2 separate regions of the Homo sapiens genome follow, and region 1 is linked to region 2. The links come from fine-mapping of genetic effects on gene expression. Tissue or cell type: cerebellar hemisphere. Region 2 holds a variant in brackets; the other region holds the start of a gene. All regions are shown on one strand. Distances are from middle to middle.

Region 1 (8,330 bases), 36 kb before region 2:
GGCATTCAAGGGTATTATTTCCTAGTAATGATCACTTAGATTCTAGGCCTTACACATGATTCAAATGCAGGAGAAATCAGGAAAGAAGCAACAGATATGGTGGTGGGTATCGGATGTCTAGACTACAGGCAAACCCCAAATACCAAAGAAGCATCCATGTGTCAAACCAGCATAATTTTTGAGCTATGCCTGGGGCCACATACAAAAAAAGAAAAGGTTAGCTTGAAAAGAAAAATCTAGGAGAGGTAACCAGAAGGTCAACCACAGTTCACGGGATCTGGGAAGAAGCTAGCCGTTACCCTGTGTCATCTTCCTGAGCAGCTTCCTCCCCAGCCAGCTCCCCAGCCTCCTTACAATGTTTCCAAAAGGCCCAACTCCCTAAACATTTGCTTCTTCAAGGTCATCCTAAGGCACTGAATAACCACCAAACACTGAGTCACGCATACCTTTCGCCTAAAAAAGATCCCCCTTCCCAAAATCATTATATAAATACTTTAAATGCCATGAGGGTTTTCTCCGAAACTCCACCAGAAACAAACTCCCAGACTTTTAGATTGGGCAACTAAATGTGTTCAATTTTGCGACATAAAATTTTAAAAGGCTTTTCAAGTCTGGCAAATTCCAGTTCAAAAACAGGTGCTTTCAGCGTACTCTGAATAACAAGGTCAAATTCATTTTTAAATTATTAAAAGAAAAAGAAAAGCTTTTCTTAACCCTCCTTAGGACAACTTAAGAAGGGGGAGAAAGAATTGCTGGGGTAAAACTGTCTCGGATAGGGTCCCTGTTTAACTCAAGAGTAAATCCTAATCTTCCGAGTGCCTGAAGTAATGGAAGGTTACAGGAAGAAAATAAAAACAAAGAAACTGACTAGGGTCATAGTTACCAGAACAAACTGCACCGCCCTACCACCTCAAGAAACCAACTCCCCCTACACCAAAACAAACCTTGCCCTTCCCCGCTCCCCCCACCCCCTAGAAACACACAAAGAAACTGGCCGCACGCACAATTCGCCCACAGTCCTCACTTCCCTTAGTAGGGCAACAGGGAGCCCCGGAACTTCCCCACGGTGGTTTATCGGGCGTCGTCGGGGCTGGGTCCCCTGGACTTGCGGGCCACAGCTCGGCTGGGGAGGAGGTGCTCGCCGCCCTCACCCGTTTCTCTGAAAGCAGTAAAATGCCTCCCCGCTCCTCCCAGGGCCCTCGGGTCCCCACCTTCCGTAAATCGTGCTTCCCCCTCGGGCACTCCGGTGACTGCCGAGAGAGACGCCGAGCCAGCAAGTAAGAATGCTCCCTGGTGGATTTGTTGGTAAATAAGACATCTCGCGTCGGGAGGAAAGTTCCTGCGGGGGCCGCTCGCCGGGGCGAGGGCGAGGGCAGCGGGAGGTGAACCGCGTCGCTCGCCGCCACCTCCCTCACCTGCGCCGGAACAACGGGCCCCGCGCCAGCCCGGCCCGGCGCCTCCCGCAGGCCGCGCCTCCCGCACGCCGCGCTGCCGGGGCTTGTTCCTCCTCATGGCTTTGCCCTGACGTAATTCAAACATGGCAACAGTTCGACTTCAAAGGCGAACCCACAGACCTCCCAGACACAGGCTCCCGGGCCACGAGAAACCGGCCGAGCAGTCCGGGCCAAGCTCCCCGGAACCCTCGGCCGTCGCAACCCCCGACGCCAGGGCTGAAGCGCCGGGCACTGCCGCCTCCCTCGGTCGCCCGCCCGCACGCCCGGAGCGGGGAAGCACGCCGCCTCCCTACGCACCAGCATGGCACCTCGCACAAGTAGCGCCGCCAAAGTTTCCCCACGAGGGGGCTGAGGGACAAAAGCCCCTCCCGAAACTCGCCCGAACTTCGAGGGCCTCCGACCTGCACGGCCCTACGCCCAGGCGGCGGCCCCGAGCGCCGGGGGCCCGCACGGGCACATGCAGCCCTTTGTTTTCTGTCCAGCCGGGCGCTGCCTACGTGCAGCATCAGGGATGTCGGAGCGTTTCGCAGGGGCCGGACACTGGACGATCACCCTGGGTAGGGGTCCGGACCCCGCGCCCCGAAGAGTCCGGAGCCTGGCCCCCCGACCCTCCCCTCGGGAGCAGGCCCATTTAATCAAAGTTTTGCAGTGTCCTTGATGAGAAACGCCCGGAGTATCCGCCCCGCACGGGCGGAGAGTTGGCGACTTTCACTCTGCTTTTTAAACTGGCAAGACGCCATCATCAGCAAACCACATTGTCCTGCCGGCCGGACCTGCCCGACGGCGGCCGCATCCCACGGCTCACGCGGGGCTGGACATTCGGACAAGGACCAGGGTCGCAGCCCGAAGCACGTGGTCTGTCACGTAGAGCACAAAAAGCAGTGCCCTGCGGAGTTCACTGACTCCCGCGGCGTACACAACGCCGCCGCCTCCATCTCCAGCCAAGTTGGCTTCCCTGGCCATCTTACAGCGCGGACGGCCGCCCATAAACGGGAAGCCCTCGCGGTGTCGCCCACACCTACGCTACAGGTGAACGCACCGGGAGCAAAACTTCGGGCTCCGAAAGCACCCCGGACACCAGAGGCTCTTGGGCGCGGTCCGAAGAGGGCAGGCGAGTGGAAGACGGGCTGTTTTTAAGCGACCGCGTGTTGCTCTCATTGTCGCATCCGCATCCCTCCGGAGTTGAGCAAACAACGCCACGCCGCGTGCGCTCCGGCAGAGCCCAGCACTGACCCCCAAAGGCCGATTTAAAGACCCTCGGCCGCCAGCTCGGAAGCGGATGGCAACTTAGTTTCCGAGCGAATGGCGTTTATTGTCCACCCTAGTCCGAGGGCTGCAGTCAACTAAACCACGAGGTTTCACAACGGCGCCCGACCCTGCCCGCGCCTCGCGCCCACGCGGACGCACCGACCCCGGCCGCTGCGCGGTGGCCAACGAGTCGCTTTCCTCTCGGGCCTTTCGGCCGCCGGGCTCCTTTCCGCGAGAGAACACTGCGGCGGAGAAAAGTCATTGTCACCTTCAACGTGGATCCCTCAACTCCGGCGACTCCTCAATTATGCCCAGGCTCCACTCACTTCCCCGCCCCGAGACTTTCGGTTTGCCTCAAATACCCTCCCCAATTAATAAATACACACTAAACACGAGCGTACCAAAGAACCTGGGGTCTGAAGATCACGAAAACAGCGCTCCCAACAATGCCACCTCCAAGACAAAACTTCCTGTGTGTATGTGGAAGGACGGGGGGAGGTGGGTGGAGGTGAAAAGAGAAAAAAAAAAACACTGAAATCAAAGCCTCGTGAGACAGTTTTGCACTAGAAGCATGGTGAGAGTCACTCACCTTCCAAAAGCAGCCGTTCCACGCGCAATAATGTCCCCGAGGTGCGGAGTGCACGCCAGGCCAGTCCCCCTCAAGCGCTCCCTCCTCCTCAACTGCCTTGTCTAGAAAGATAGTCTCCTGCAGTTCTGCAGTTGCTACCGCTGGCCGGGAAGGTGTAGATTCCGCTTTCCCTCTGCGCACGCGCGGCTCCCGGCACAAAATTCTCTTGAATCGAACTTATTTGCATACGGGCGCGCGCACGTTGCGGGCTGGGAGGGGGAGAAGTCCCGGCGACCGCGCGCGCTCCCGAGGCCTCTATTGTCCTTTTAAGGGGAGAAGCTCCGCGGCGCGGGAAACGCGGCGGCCAGAGGGAAACGGGGGCGGGGACTGCTTACTACGGCGGACGTCACATAAACAAACGCCCCCCCCCCCGGCTGCAGGCCGCGGCGGAGAGGGAGAGGCGAGGTGGGAAAGGGAAAGGTTAGCAACTGAGGGGAGGGCTGCGCTGCTTGGCGTGTTTTCCGCCCCCGAAGTTGTTAGGGGCACCATTGAGCGCTGAAAAATTGTTCTGAAAGCTGCTTTTGCAAAATTCTCACACCTGTCCCCACTGTCGGTGACAGAGGAGGTGGTCTTGTAAGCACCCAGACTGAATTTATACTAATCCCACGTTTCCTAAATTTTGTTTGAAGTTAGGTTTTTGAAGCTTGTAAAAAAAAAATCCTCTGGGGCCAGCAAAGGTTTAGTTTTTGTGCAGTTGTAATGAGTCGTTTAATAAAGTCCCATTTTAACACCCTAGCCATTCGCTAACTCCCGCTTGCCCTTCTCAAATAGTAACCCAACCCATAACAATCCAGTTTTTTCCTCCACTTCGGCCTTAAGATTTCAAGTCTCTCCGAATTGAATGATTGTTAATTTCCGTGGGAACAGTGCCGCTTTCTTTAAAAGACTAGGCATTGGAAAGCCAATAACCTAGGGACAGGCATACCTCCTCTAGCAGCTTGTAAAGGGTGTTCCACTCACCCAGAAATAATTCCAGTAACTGGTGGTCTTGGGAATGGAAAAAATAACGAGTGACGTACAGACTTTTCAATGCAGAATATGTAATAATTCAACAATCTAAGCGCTTTCTAGACTCCGGAAGAAAAAAACTGAAGTAACTCTTCTCAGATTGATAAGAGGAAAATGAAAACCGAATGATTGATTCGCCTTTGTCCCAAGGACACACTTAACACCAACAGGCAGAAACCCGGGGTTAATGATAGAGGGTGGGGAGAGAGGAAGGATGTTTTTCCCAGAAACTTGATATTGGTCCCAAGTTACAAAAGTGTGAAAATCAACCATAAAACTTAATCATCTGCTGACACGTTTCGCTGCTTTCACTGCAGTGTCAACAATACAGATTTAAATAGTTACTTCTGAAATGTTAATTTAATTCAACAGGCAATTCCTAGTACATACAGTATAAACCCACTTCTGAACTCCTCAACTAATACTTCTTTATTTTTCTTTAGGTTCTGTAACATACTATTCCTGTAACTGTATATGAAAACTATATTATAAATACCTGAAAAGATAGCCTGGCGTGGTGGTGGGCACCTGTAATCCCAGCTATTCGGGAGCCTGAGGCAGGAGAATCGCTTGAACCTGGGAGGCGGAGGTTGCAGTGAGCAGAGATTGCGCCACTGCACCCCAGCCTGGGCGACAGAGCAAGACTGTCTCAAAACAAAAACAAAAACAAAAACAAAAAACAGAAAGAAAAAGGACACCTCTCATTAAAATATGAGCTCCTTAAAGACAAGGATTTTATGCCTTTCTTACCCATCTTTGTATTCCAGTGCCTGACACAGTGCACATCAGATAATATATACTGACATCTTGCATGCATTAGTTGGCTAGGAAAATTTTTTTTTAATGTAATAAACGGCTGGGCACAGCGCCTCACACCTGTAATCCTAGCACTTTGGGAGGCCAAGGCAGGCAGATCACATGAGGTCAGGAGTTCGAGACCAGCCTGGCCAACATGGTGAAAACCTGCCTCTGCTAAAAATATAAAAATTAGCCGGGCATGGTGGCTCACCCCTGTAATCCCAGCACTTTGGGAAGCCAAGGCAAGTGGATCACCTGAGGTCAGGAGTTCAAGACCAGCCTGGCCAACATAGTGAAACCCTGTCTCTACTAAAAATACAAAAATTAGTGGGGCATGGTGGCACTCACCTGTAATCCCTGCAACTCGAGAGGCTGAGATGTGGTGGCACATGCCTGTAATCCTAGCTACTCAGGAGGCTGAGGCAGGAGAATTGCCTGAACCCGAGAGGCGGAGGTTGCAGTGAGCCAAGATCACGCCACTGCACTCCAGCCTGGACAATAGAGCAAGACTCTGTCTCAAAAAAAAAAAAAAAATATATATATATATATATAATAAATATATAAATTAGCTGGGCATTTTCGCACAGACCTGTAATTCCAGCTACTTGGGAGGCTAAGGCACAAGAATCACTTCAATCTGGGAGGCTGAGGTTGCAGTGAGCCGAAATCGCACTACTGCACTCCAGCCTGGGTGACGGAGTGAAACTCTTGTCTCAAAAAATAATAATAATGGCCAGGCGAAGTGCCTCACGCCTGTAATCACAGCACTTTGGGAGGCCAATGTGGGTGAATTACCTGAGGTAGGGAGTTTGAGAGCAGCCTGACCAACATGGAGAAACCCCGTCTCTACCAAAAATGCAAAATTAGCCGGGCGTGGTGGCACATGCCTATAATCCTAGCTACTTGGGAGGCTGAGGCAGGAGAATCCCTTGAATCCAGGAGACAGAGGTTGTGGTGAGCCGAGAGATCAAGCCATTGCACTCCAGCCTGGGCAACAAGAGCTAAACTCTGTCTCAAAATAATAATAATAATAATAAATATATAAATATAATTTTAAAAAATTAATGGACATTTTCAAGGTTCTTACAGGTTTATCGCTAATCAGAACTTTAGTTTACAATTTTTGCATTTGACCTAAAATGAGTTTGGAAGTTATAGTGGTCACATTGGTTGATATGCCAGCCCTGTCCTTATGACAATAAAAATGAATAAGCTTAATAGCTGTTTCTGTGTTCCACTGGTGGCAAATTGGACCCTAATCATAAATTTCTGCCTTCTTTCTAAAGAGAATTTTAACAATTGTCCTGGGTTGTCTCAAATATTTATTTGGCTTATGACAGATCTTCCAAAAATAATTTCAAATTATTATATGCCTCTGAAGGTATGAAAACTGCAAATACTGGCCAGGCGCGGTGGCTTATGCCTGTAATCCCAGCACTTTGGGAGGATGAAGCGGGTGGATCACAAGGTCAGGAGTTTGAGACCAGTCTGGACAGCATGGTGAAACCCCGTCTCTACTAAAAATACAAAAAATTAGCCGGGCATGGTGGTGCACGCCTGTAGTCCTAGCTACTTGGGAGGCTGAGGCAGGAGAATCGATTGAACCCAGGAGGCAGAGGTTGCAGTGAGCTGAAATCACACCACTGCACTCCAACCTGGGTGACAGAGCGAGACTCCATCTCAAAAAAAAAAGAAAAGAAAAGAAAGAAAATTGTAAATACCATAATAATATTTTTTAAACTCCAATTATGGTTTACAGGAGTATATATATACATATATGTAAGTGTGTACACACACACACACGTACCTTGAATGCTTTTTCTCTTGAAAGTTTATGTAAAGAATATTTATTGTGGCCGGACGCGGTGGCTCCTGCCTGTAATCCCAGCATTTTGGGAGGTCGAGGTGGGTGGATCACAAGGTCAGGAGTTTGAGACCAGCCTGGCCAATATGGTGAAACCTCGTCTCTACTAAAAATACAAAAAAATTAGCCGGGCATGGTGGCACGTGCCTGTAATCCCAGCTACTTGGGAGGCTGAGGCAGGAGAATTGCTTGAATCCGGGAGGCAGAGGTTGCAGTGAGCCGAGATCACGCCACTGCACTCCAGCCTGGGTAACAGGGCAAGATTCCATCTCAAAAAAAAAAAAAATTTTATTGTAATACAGGGATGGAATAATAAACGCAAATGTGCAAGCAATGCAGGAATTACAGTACTTAGGATACACCGTTCAGGTAAAAAAGTACCTAGAAGTTGCAGAGCTACTGAGTTAATGTAGCCAGACTTCCTCTGCTCTCAAAGTATAGGTCAAGAAGTAATCTGGGTAAGTTTTTTAGGAAGGGTAGCTACAAAATTCTTTTTTAAAATTTTTTATTACTTTTTAATTTTTCTTTGATAATCCTATTGCAATAAACAAAATTCTCAAAGAAAAATCGGAATTCCATAGTCTTTTTTTTTAAAGCAACCACCTGCTATTTTTGAACAACCAAGTGCATTCCGAAGGTTCTTTTGTCCAGTTTGTTGCTTGAACATGTCATTATGGATGGCCCTACCCAGGCCCAATAGCTCATGTATGGGTTACTTTTAACTACTACTACCTAAATTGCCCAAGTGAATTTTTCAACGTGAAAAAGGAAAGAAGGAAATACAAGAAGTAATTTATAATATATCAATTTGTATTACAAGAGATTGAATTACATCATGCTAGGAAAATATCTGCGGATTTTGTTTTGTTTTGTTTTTGTTTGTTTTTTTTGAGAAGGAGTTTTGCTCTTGTTGCCCAGGCTAGAGTGCAATGGCACGATCTTGGCTCACCACAACCTCCACCTCCCGGGTTCAAGCGATTCTCCTGCCTCAGCCTTCCGAGTAGCTGGGATTACAGGCATGAGCCTGCATGCCCGGCTAATTTTGTATTTTTAGTAGAGATGGGGTTTCTCCATAGTTGGTTAGGCTGGTCTCAAACTCCCGACCTCAGGTAATTCACCCACCTTGGCCTCCCAAAGTGCTAGGATTACAGGCGTGAGCCACCACACCCTGCCCTGAGTATTTTTTAATGACTACAATGCTATGTTGAACTCATAAGTAGTTTTCAAACATTTTGAAGTTGAAAGCTAACTACTTTCTTATAATGTATGTCTCGCTGTAGAATTATCCCTAACGCTTGAATTTTTATTCCTTTAGCAAACATTTAATGAT
Region 2 (8,330 bases):
ACCTGGCTTGCACATCTGTCTCTTAGGAGTTTGGTTACTGTTAGCTCTGTGAGCCTGAGTGATCACCTCAACTATCCTAGCAAAATAGGAGAGTTGGGGCCCTCCAAAGCTGAGAATTTGGGCATTATGACCTAAATAAAGCAACACAATACTGTCTGAGCAACTAGTCAAACCCAACCAGCCTCCTTCTCTGACAACTTTATTTTGCTTTCTTTAAGTGCCATACCAATTATTATAAGTGATGACTAGTATTTATCATTTTAAATGGCAAACAACCCTAAATGGCTTGGTGGAGGGCAAGTTCAGACATTGTCCTGGAGACTGGCTGAGAGTAGAAGCCCCTCTGCAGTGTTCTTTGAAGTGCTGATTTTAGTTATATAAAATGCTAAATTGCCTCTCCCACTGTCAGAATAGCCTTTTATTTATTTATTTATTTATTTATTTATTTTTGAGACGGAGACTCGCTCTGTCCCCCAGGCTGGAGTGCAGTGGCACCATCTTGGCTCACAGCAAGCTCCGCTTCCCAAGTTCACACCATTCTCCTGCCTCAGCCTCCCAAGTAGCTGGGACTACAGGCGCCCGTCACCACGCCTGGCTAATTTTTTTTTTTTTTTTTGTATTTTTAGTAGAGACAGGGTTTCACCATGTTAGCCAGGATGGTCTTGATCTCCTGACCTCGTGATCCGCCCGCCTCAGCCTCCCAAAGTGCTGGGATTACAGGCGTGAGCCACTGTGCCCAGCCCAAAATAGCCTTTTATACCTCTTCCTGTTTATGTTATCAAGAAGTTAGTATGTAGACTTCAGAACTCAATTTTGATCTGCTCTTGATTAAACCTTGGTTTACAGAACTACGGTAGTTTTTCACATTGTAGAGAAAAAGTTGAACTATTTTAATAATGGATTTTCTGTGTGTATAGAAACTCCTACAATTGATTTAAATTTTTTTTTTTTTTGAGACAGATTCTTGCTTTGTCGCCCAGGCTGGAGTGATCTCGGCTCACTGCAACCTCCACCTCCTGGATTCAAGCAATTCTCCTGCCTCAGCCTCCCAAGTAGCTGGAATTACAGGCACCCGCCACCACACTAATTTTTGTAGTTTTTAGTAGAGATGGGGTTTCACCATGTTGCCCAAGGCTGGTGTCCAACTCCTGACCTCAAGTGATCTACCCTCCTCGGCCTCCCAAAGTGCTGGGATTACAGGCGTGAGCCACCACGCCCAACCTTGAGTTAAATTTCTAAAAATCTCAACATAATGTGTTTGGCTCCTCTTCTTATTATGCTTAGAGTTAGGCACTAGCACATACTAGACCTAAACTTGACTGATTTGAAAAGACCACTGAAATCCATGATTTGCTGCGGATCCTCTGTGTCTGCTGTGGCCAATATAAAGAAACTTGGATGCACTTAATTTATGAAGACAAGCTTTGTTGATCTGGAAGTTGAATGATAAATGTGAATCCAATGACGCCATACCCCTGCGGATAATGGCAGGCTGGATGTAGCATGTTAGCCGTCATATTCTGTGTGCTCCCTGCGATGTGGGCACTTCCCTTCCATCGTGGTGAGGCCAAAGCAAAGGCACAGAGACCTGAACACAAACATGAAAAACACCTTACCACCTGGGAGTCAGGGGCAGGTTCAGGCACATCCATTCCTCTGGCATTTGAGCAGCTGTTTTCCACAGCATTAACTCAGCACGGCAGGGTAAGTCAGATTAAAAACCAATAAAAGAGTAGTATCCTCATACCACCCTCAACGTCTTCCTGCTTCACCAAAAAACCAATAAAAGACTGAATGTGGCCCTTTATCAGCTAGACCTCAAAATCTTCTTTGCTTTCTATGCGTATTTCCAATAAAAAAGTACAAGGGTTGTTAAAAGTCCTTATTTATTTATTTATTTATTTATTTATTTATTTATTTATTTTTAGAACCAGGGTCTCACTCTGTTGCCCAGGCTGGAGTTCAGTGGTGCAGTCATAGCTCAGTGCAGCCTCCAACTCCTGAGCTCAAGTGATCCTCCCACTTCAGCCTCCAGAGAAGTTGGGACTACAGGTGCATGCTACCACGCCAGGCTAATGCTTTTGGTTTTTTAAGAGTTTTGTTGAGTCAGGGTCTTGCTATGTTGCCCAGGCTGGTCTCAAATTCCTAGCTTCAAGCAGTCCTCCTCCCTCAGCCTCCCAAAGGGTTGGTATTACAGGCATGAACCACTGTGCCTGGCCTTAAAGTCCTTTTGAAACACAAGACAAGAAACATTTGGCCGCGCACAGTGGCTCATGCCTGTAATCCCAGCACTTTGGGAGGCCAAGGCAGGTAGATCATGAGGTCAGGAGTTCAAGACCAGCCTGGCCAAGATGGTGAAACCCCATCTCTACTAAAAATACAAAAAATTAGCTGGGCATGGTGGCACGTGACTGTAATCCCAACTACTCAGAAGGCTGAGGCAGAGAATTGCTTAAAACCCAGGAGGTGGAGGTTGCAGTGAGCCAAGATCTCGCCACTGCACTCCAGCCTGGGCAACAGAGCAAGACTCTGTCTCGAAAAAATTAAAAATAAAAATACAAAAATTAGCTGGGCATAGTGGCACGTGCCTGTCATCCCACCTACTCAGGAGGCTGGGGCAGGCGAATCGCTTGAACCCGGGAGGCGGAGGTTGCGGTGAGCCAAGATCGCGCCATTGCACGCCAGCCTGGGCAACAGAGCGAAACTCAGTCTCAAAAAAAAAAAAAAAGGAAACATTTATTGAACACCTAGTACATTCCATGCACTGTAGTGTGTGTGGTTTTATTTAATTTCATCTCTGCCCAACCCTGGGAAACGGTCTATTAGCAGACGCAGAGGATAAGGCACAGGACGATCAGGTAACACACCCAGGGCCAAATATCATAAATGGCAGAATTCAAATTAAAGCCACCTTCCAAGCCATGTCCCTCCCATCGTCACAATACTGCATGTCTACAGCACAGTTGATGGGCATAACCCTTCTTAGCAACAGCAAGCAGCTGAGCAGAAAGTAATTGCAGGAGGCAGAGCCAAGAGGAAAACTGCTGAGAGTGCTGACGGTAGGTGGAGAGAACAGAAGCACACACCGTAGGGTGCAATCTTAGTGAGCTTTGTTTTCCTTCAATAGAGGTGAGTTCAGACCCAGGCATGTCTCTCCAACATTCATTTCCCCTGCTTCGGCACCATAGACTTGAAGGATTGGACTCAGGAGTTGGGGAGGACACGGGGGAAGTTGCTTTCCTGGTGCTGAGGCCCCCGGCCACCGTGGTAGTGTACAGCAAGTACAGGGTAACAGAAGGGCCAGCAGGAGGACACGGCGCAATGGTGTACCGAGGGACAGGAGAGTGAATCAGAGCCACAGGACAGAGCTCCACCTGT[T/C]TCCAGGGAAGTGCATGGGGGGCTCCCGGAAGCCAAAGGCAGCGCCCAGAGGCAGTGTGAAGAGGCCTTCCTCAGACCTCAGGGTTTCGGCAGGGATAGTGGGTGACCTGTGTGCTGGCTCTCCAGAAACTGAAAGCAGCAAGAGACACTTGGGCTCCTTTTTTAGTTTTTCTGGTTTGTTTTGTTTTGTTTTTTTGCAGGCACTCGGTGGTTAGCTGGAAATAAAGGTGGAGGAACTGGGCAGTTCAAAGGCAGAGACGGCTTCCCCCACCCCCACCTCACCTCCCCTTTCATTCAGAAAAGCCACAAAAGCGTGGCCCCAGGGTGTGTGTGAAAGGAGGGAGGAGTGACTCCACCTAGCTCCTCTGGAGTAAAGAGAGGCTGTGGGCCTGGTGTCGTGCGTGCATGCCTGCATGTGCCTGTGTGTGTGCATGCTTGCCTGGTGCTCAAGGGTCAGGGGAAGCTGGCTGAGAAGACTGAGGAGATGGAGGGAGGTGGAGGGAAGTGTAATAGAAGGAGGTGGAGGAAGGTGGCTGCCATAGAGCTTTGGCTCTGGCTGGCCTGAGTCTCTTCCTGAAGTTGCAGCTGCACTTTGGGGCCAGGCGCTGTTGACACTGTGGGTATAAACATGTGGCCAGCAGCAGAATAGAGACTCAGAGTCTTGAGAAAGAAAGTGGTGACTTCCCACTCCTCCTTCCTTCTTTCCTGTACAGAGTCTGCCATCTGGGGGCAGAGATATGGGCAAGCCCTCATTATAATACTAGCAGTGAAGGGCTGGGCATGACAGGTGGAAACACCACTGACTCTAGAACTCAGAGCATGGAATTTGGTATGGTGGCAGGCAGGGGTCCAGAGGTAGTATTTGTTATCTATTGCTGTGTAACGAATTAGCTTAAGGTATAGCAGTTCAAGAGAAGAAATGTTTATTATCTCACAATTTCTTTGGGTCAGAAATACAGGTGTGGTTTAGCTGAATGCTTTCTGGCTGAAGGTGTTTCAGGACGTTACAGTCATGCCACCAGCTGGGGCTGCCAACTCATCTGAAGGCTCAACACAGGGGGACCGGAGTCCAAGCTCCCTCACATGGTCACCAGCAGGATTCAGTTCCTCGAAGGCTGTCATTTAGAGGCCTCCCTCCGTCCCTCCTTACAGGTCCTTCTCACAGGGCACTTCGTGACATGGCAGCTGACTTTCTGGGGACCATCCAAGTGAGAAAGAGCCCTTAGAAAGAAGTGACAGTCTTTATATAACCTAATCTCAGAAGTGACAACTCATCCCTTCTACAAGGTTCTATTATTCAAAATTGCATCTGTAAATCCAGCTCACTCAAGGGAAAGGGATTACTAGGAGATAGGGGTCACTGGGGGCCATTCTAGAGGCTCCCTGTCACAGCATCCAAGCTGAGACCTACAGAATGACAGGAGTTCACCAGGCAGGGAGGCAGGAGGGAGTTGGGGGACGGCAGGTGCAGTGAACCATGGTTGTAACTCAGTATGGCTGCACAGAGAGCACTGCCTGAGGGTGAGCAGTGCTGTGGAGAGGCCAGCAGGGCCCAGAACTTGTACCATCTTTTAACCCAGGTTTGTAAGGGTGGACTTTATCCTGCAAGCATGAAGATCCTAAAGCTTGAGGCTAACGGTTAAGATTTGGCTTTAGAAAGATTACACTGCTGGCCCAGCTCAGTGGCTCACGCCTGTAATCCCAGCATTTTGGGAGGCTGAGGTGGGCGGATCACCTGAGGTCAGGAGTTCGAGACCAGCCTGGCCAACATGGTGAAACCCTGGTTCTCCTAAAAATACAAAAAAATTAGCTGGGCATGGTGGTGGGTGCTTGTAATCCCAGCTATGCGGGAGGCTGAGGCAGGAGAATCGCCTGAACCCGGGAGGTGGAGGAGGTTGCAGTGAGCCAAGATGGCACCGCTGCACTCCAGCCTGGGTGACAGAGTGAGACTGTATCTGAAAGAAAGGAAAGGGAAAAAAAAGAAAGAAAAAAAAAAGAAAAGAAAAGAAGGAAGGTTATCACTGCTGTGGGGAGAATGGATTGAAGAGAGTAAAAGAGCAGAGGAAGGCCAGCTGGCGGGTGCGGCAGGTGGGGGGATTGAACTGAGGTGCTGGAGAGGCTGAATGGCTGGCAGCAGCGCTGCTGCAGAGCTGGCGTCCCTGGGTGTAGGAACTGACTGCTTATGTCCGTCTTCCTCCTCTGGAACATAAGCTCAATGAGGACAGGGATTCTTGTTTGTAGTCTCTGGTATCCCCAGCGTTTAGGACAGTGGCACTAGATGAATGACTAGGACACCCCAAGGTTTCTGGCTTGAGTAACTGGGTGGAGCTATTCTCTAAGCTGTGAGGCACAGAGGGCAAACATGGACAGAAACTTAATATTTGAGAAATACTGAGTTTGAGGTGCTTTGTAGGCCATCTGAGAATAAATGCCTCGTAGGCAGTTGACATGCGGGGATCTGGAAAGCCTCTTAAAGAAATGGTGAGAGATGGAGACTTGAAAATCCAAGCACCTAGACGCCCGTGATGGGAGTAGTTAACATGGCCCTGGGACCCTTTCCCAGAGTTTCTAGGACACCTTACGCAGCAACAGTGCTTGCTTTGAAAGATAGTAAAGGAAGAAAGTCTTGCCAATTGTCATTCACAAAAGAAAGTCAAAAATATGTTGCCAGAGAGGACAGGAGAAAGCCAGGAATCACGGGAAGCCAGAAGAGAGCTTCGAGTACTATGAGAACAGCACAGTAGGTTAGGTAAGGACTGAAAGGAGGCCGGTGAGTTGAAGCCCACTGTGGGTGGGGAGGAAGGAGAAAAGGAATGTTTTCCAGAAATGCAAAGCATTACTTAATATTTATTTTATTTTATTTTTTTGAGATGGAGTCTGGCTCTGTTGCCCAGGCTGGAGTGCAGTGGCACGATCTCTGCTCACTGCAACCTCTGCCTCCCGGGTTCAAGTGATTCTCCTGCCTCAGCCTCCAGAGTAGCTGGGATTACAGGCGCCCACCAACATGGCTGGCTAATTTTTGTATTTTTAGTAGAGATGGGGTTTCACCGTATTAGCCAGGCTGGTCTCGAACTCCTGACCTTGTGATCCACCTGCCTCAGCCTCCCAAAGTGCTGGGATTACAGGCGTGAGCCACCATACCCGGCCTATTTTATATTATATTTATTTTATTTTATATTTTTTGCTCTGTTGCTCAGGCCGAAGTGCAGTGGTACAATCATGGCTCACTACAGCCTCCACCTCCTGATTCTCAAGCAATCCTCCCACCCCAGCCTCCCAGAGTGCTGAGATTACAGGTGTGAGCCACCACACCTGGCCTCCATTACTTAAAAATGTTTTAAAGGCTGGACACAGTGGCTCACGCCTCTAATCCCAGCACTTTGGGAGGCTGAGGCAGGAGGATCACCTGCAGTCAGGAGTTTGAGAGCAGCCTGGCCAGCATGGTGAAACCCCGTCTCTACTAAAAAATACAAAAATTAGCTGGGCGTGGTGGTGGGTGCCTGTAAACCCAGCTACTTGGGAGGCTGAGTCTGGAGAATTGTTTGAACCTGGGAGGCAGAGGTTGCAATGAGTGGAGATCATGCCATTGCACTCCAGCCTGGGCAACAGAGTGAAACTCCGCCTCAAAAAAAAAAAAAATTAAAACTGTCACTTCCAAACACCATTAAAAAACAAAGTGCCTGATTCGGCCGTACATGTACTAAAATTGGAACACTGGAACGGTAACAGAGAAGATTAGCATGGCTCCTGCACAAAGATGACACGCAAATTCATCAAGCATTCCTTTTTTTTTTTTTTTTGGAGACAGTGTTTCACTCCTATCACCAAGGCTGGACTACAGTGGCGTGATCTCAGCTCACTGCAACCTCCACCTCCCGGGCTCAATGGATTCTTCTGCCTCAGCCTCTGGAGTAGCTGGGACTATAGGCATGCACCACTGTGCCCGGCTAATTTTTGTATTTTTGGTAGAGACGGGGTTTCACTATGTTACCCAGGCTGGTTTCAAACTACTGAGCTCAAGCGATCCACCCGCCTCAGTCTCCTAAAGTGCTGGGATTACAGGCGCGAGCCACTGTGCCCAGCCTCATACTTTTTATATTCATTTTGAAAAAAACCAAACATACAAAATATAGATAAGCATTTAGATCACAAGTTCCCCAAACTGGTCTTTGTAGCAGCAATTTAGGAATCACCTGGGTGGTTTTTAAAAATACATATTCTGCCGGGCACGGTGGCTCACTTTGGGAGGCCGAGGCGGGCGGATCATGAGGTCAGGAGATCGAGACCATCCTGGCCAACACGGTGAAACCCCATCTCTACTAAAAATACAAAAAAATTAGCCGGGCATGGTGGCGGGCGCCTGTAATCCCAGCTACTCGGGAGACTGAGGCAGGAGAATGTCATGAATCCAGGAGGCAGAGCTTGCAGTGAGCGGAGATCGAGCCACTGCACTCCAGCCTGGGCGACAAGTGAGACTCTGTCTCAAAAAAACAAAACAAAACAAAAAAAAACCAGATTCTGGGTTTGCCCCAATTCCATAAAATTAACCTCTCAAGGGTGAAGCAGGAGAAACTATTTTTTAATGTGCCAAGTGACTTTGAAGTGTGACAAGCTTTTTAAACATTTTATTTGGAGTTTTCTGCTTTTATTATTTTTAATTGACACATAATAATTGTATATATTTATGCGGTACCATGTGAGATTTTGATATAGGCATACAATGTGTAATGATCTAATCAGGGTAATTAACATATCCATCACCTCAAAGAGTTTTGACATCACTCATTTAAACCTCTAAGAAATACTTTTCAGCTGGGCGCAGTAGCTCACGCCTGTAACCCCAGCACTTTGGGAGGCCGAGGCGGGTGGATCACCTGAGGTCAGGAGTTCGAAACCAGCCTGACCAACATGGAGAAACCCCATCTCTACTAAAAATACAAAATTAGCCAGGC

Evidence for each region. PIP is the estimated chance that this variant, and not a neighbour inherited with it, causes the effect.
Region 1: it holds the start of SINHCAF, and the variant in region 2 is fine-mapped to the expression of SINHCAF in cerebellar hemisphere (GTEx, PIP above 0.99). The same link has a PIP of 0.9 or more in cerebellum.

Annotation. Positions count from the first base shown.
Region 1 is chr12:31,322,733-31,331,062 of GRCh38, forward strand. It overlaps SINHCAF (SIN3-HDAC complex associated factor), which reads right to left and starts at 3,418. Exons shown (of 6, transcript NM_001135812.2): 1 at 3,292-3,418. It overlaps FLJ13224 (a long non-coding RNA gene), which reads left to right and starts at 1,584. Exons shown (of 1, transcript NR_026806.1): 1 at 1,584-3,213. RefSeq lists an enhancer at 2,507-3,438.
Region 2 is chr12:31,359,197-31,367,526 of GRCh38, forward strand. It overlaps LINC02387 (long intergenic non-protein coding RNA 2387), which reads right to left. Exons shown (of 2, transcript NR_146469.1): 2 at 4,285-4,599. It overlaps LOC124903091 (U6 spliceosomal RNA), which reads left to right and starts at 7,068; the gene lies at 7,068-7,170. RefSeq lists an enhancer at 5,323-5,822. The variant T/C (reference allele first, on the strand shown) is at 3,379.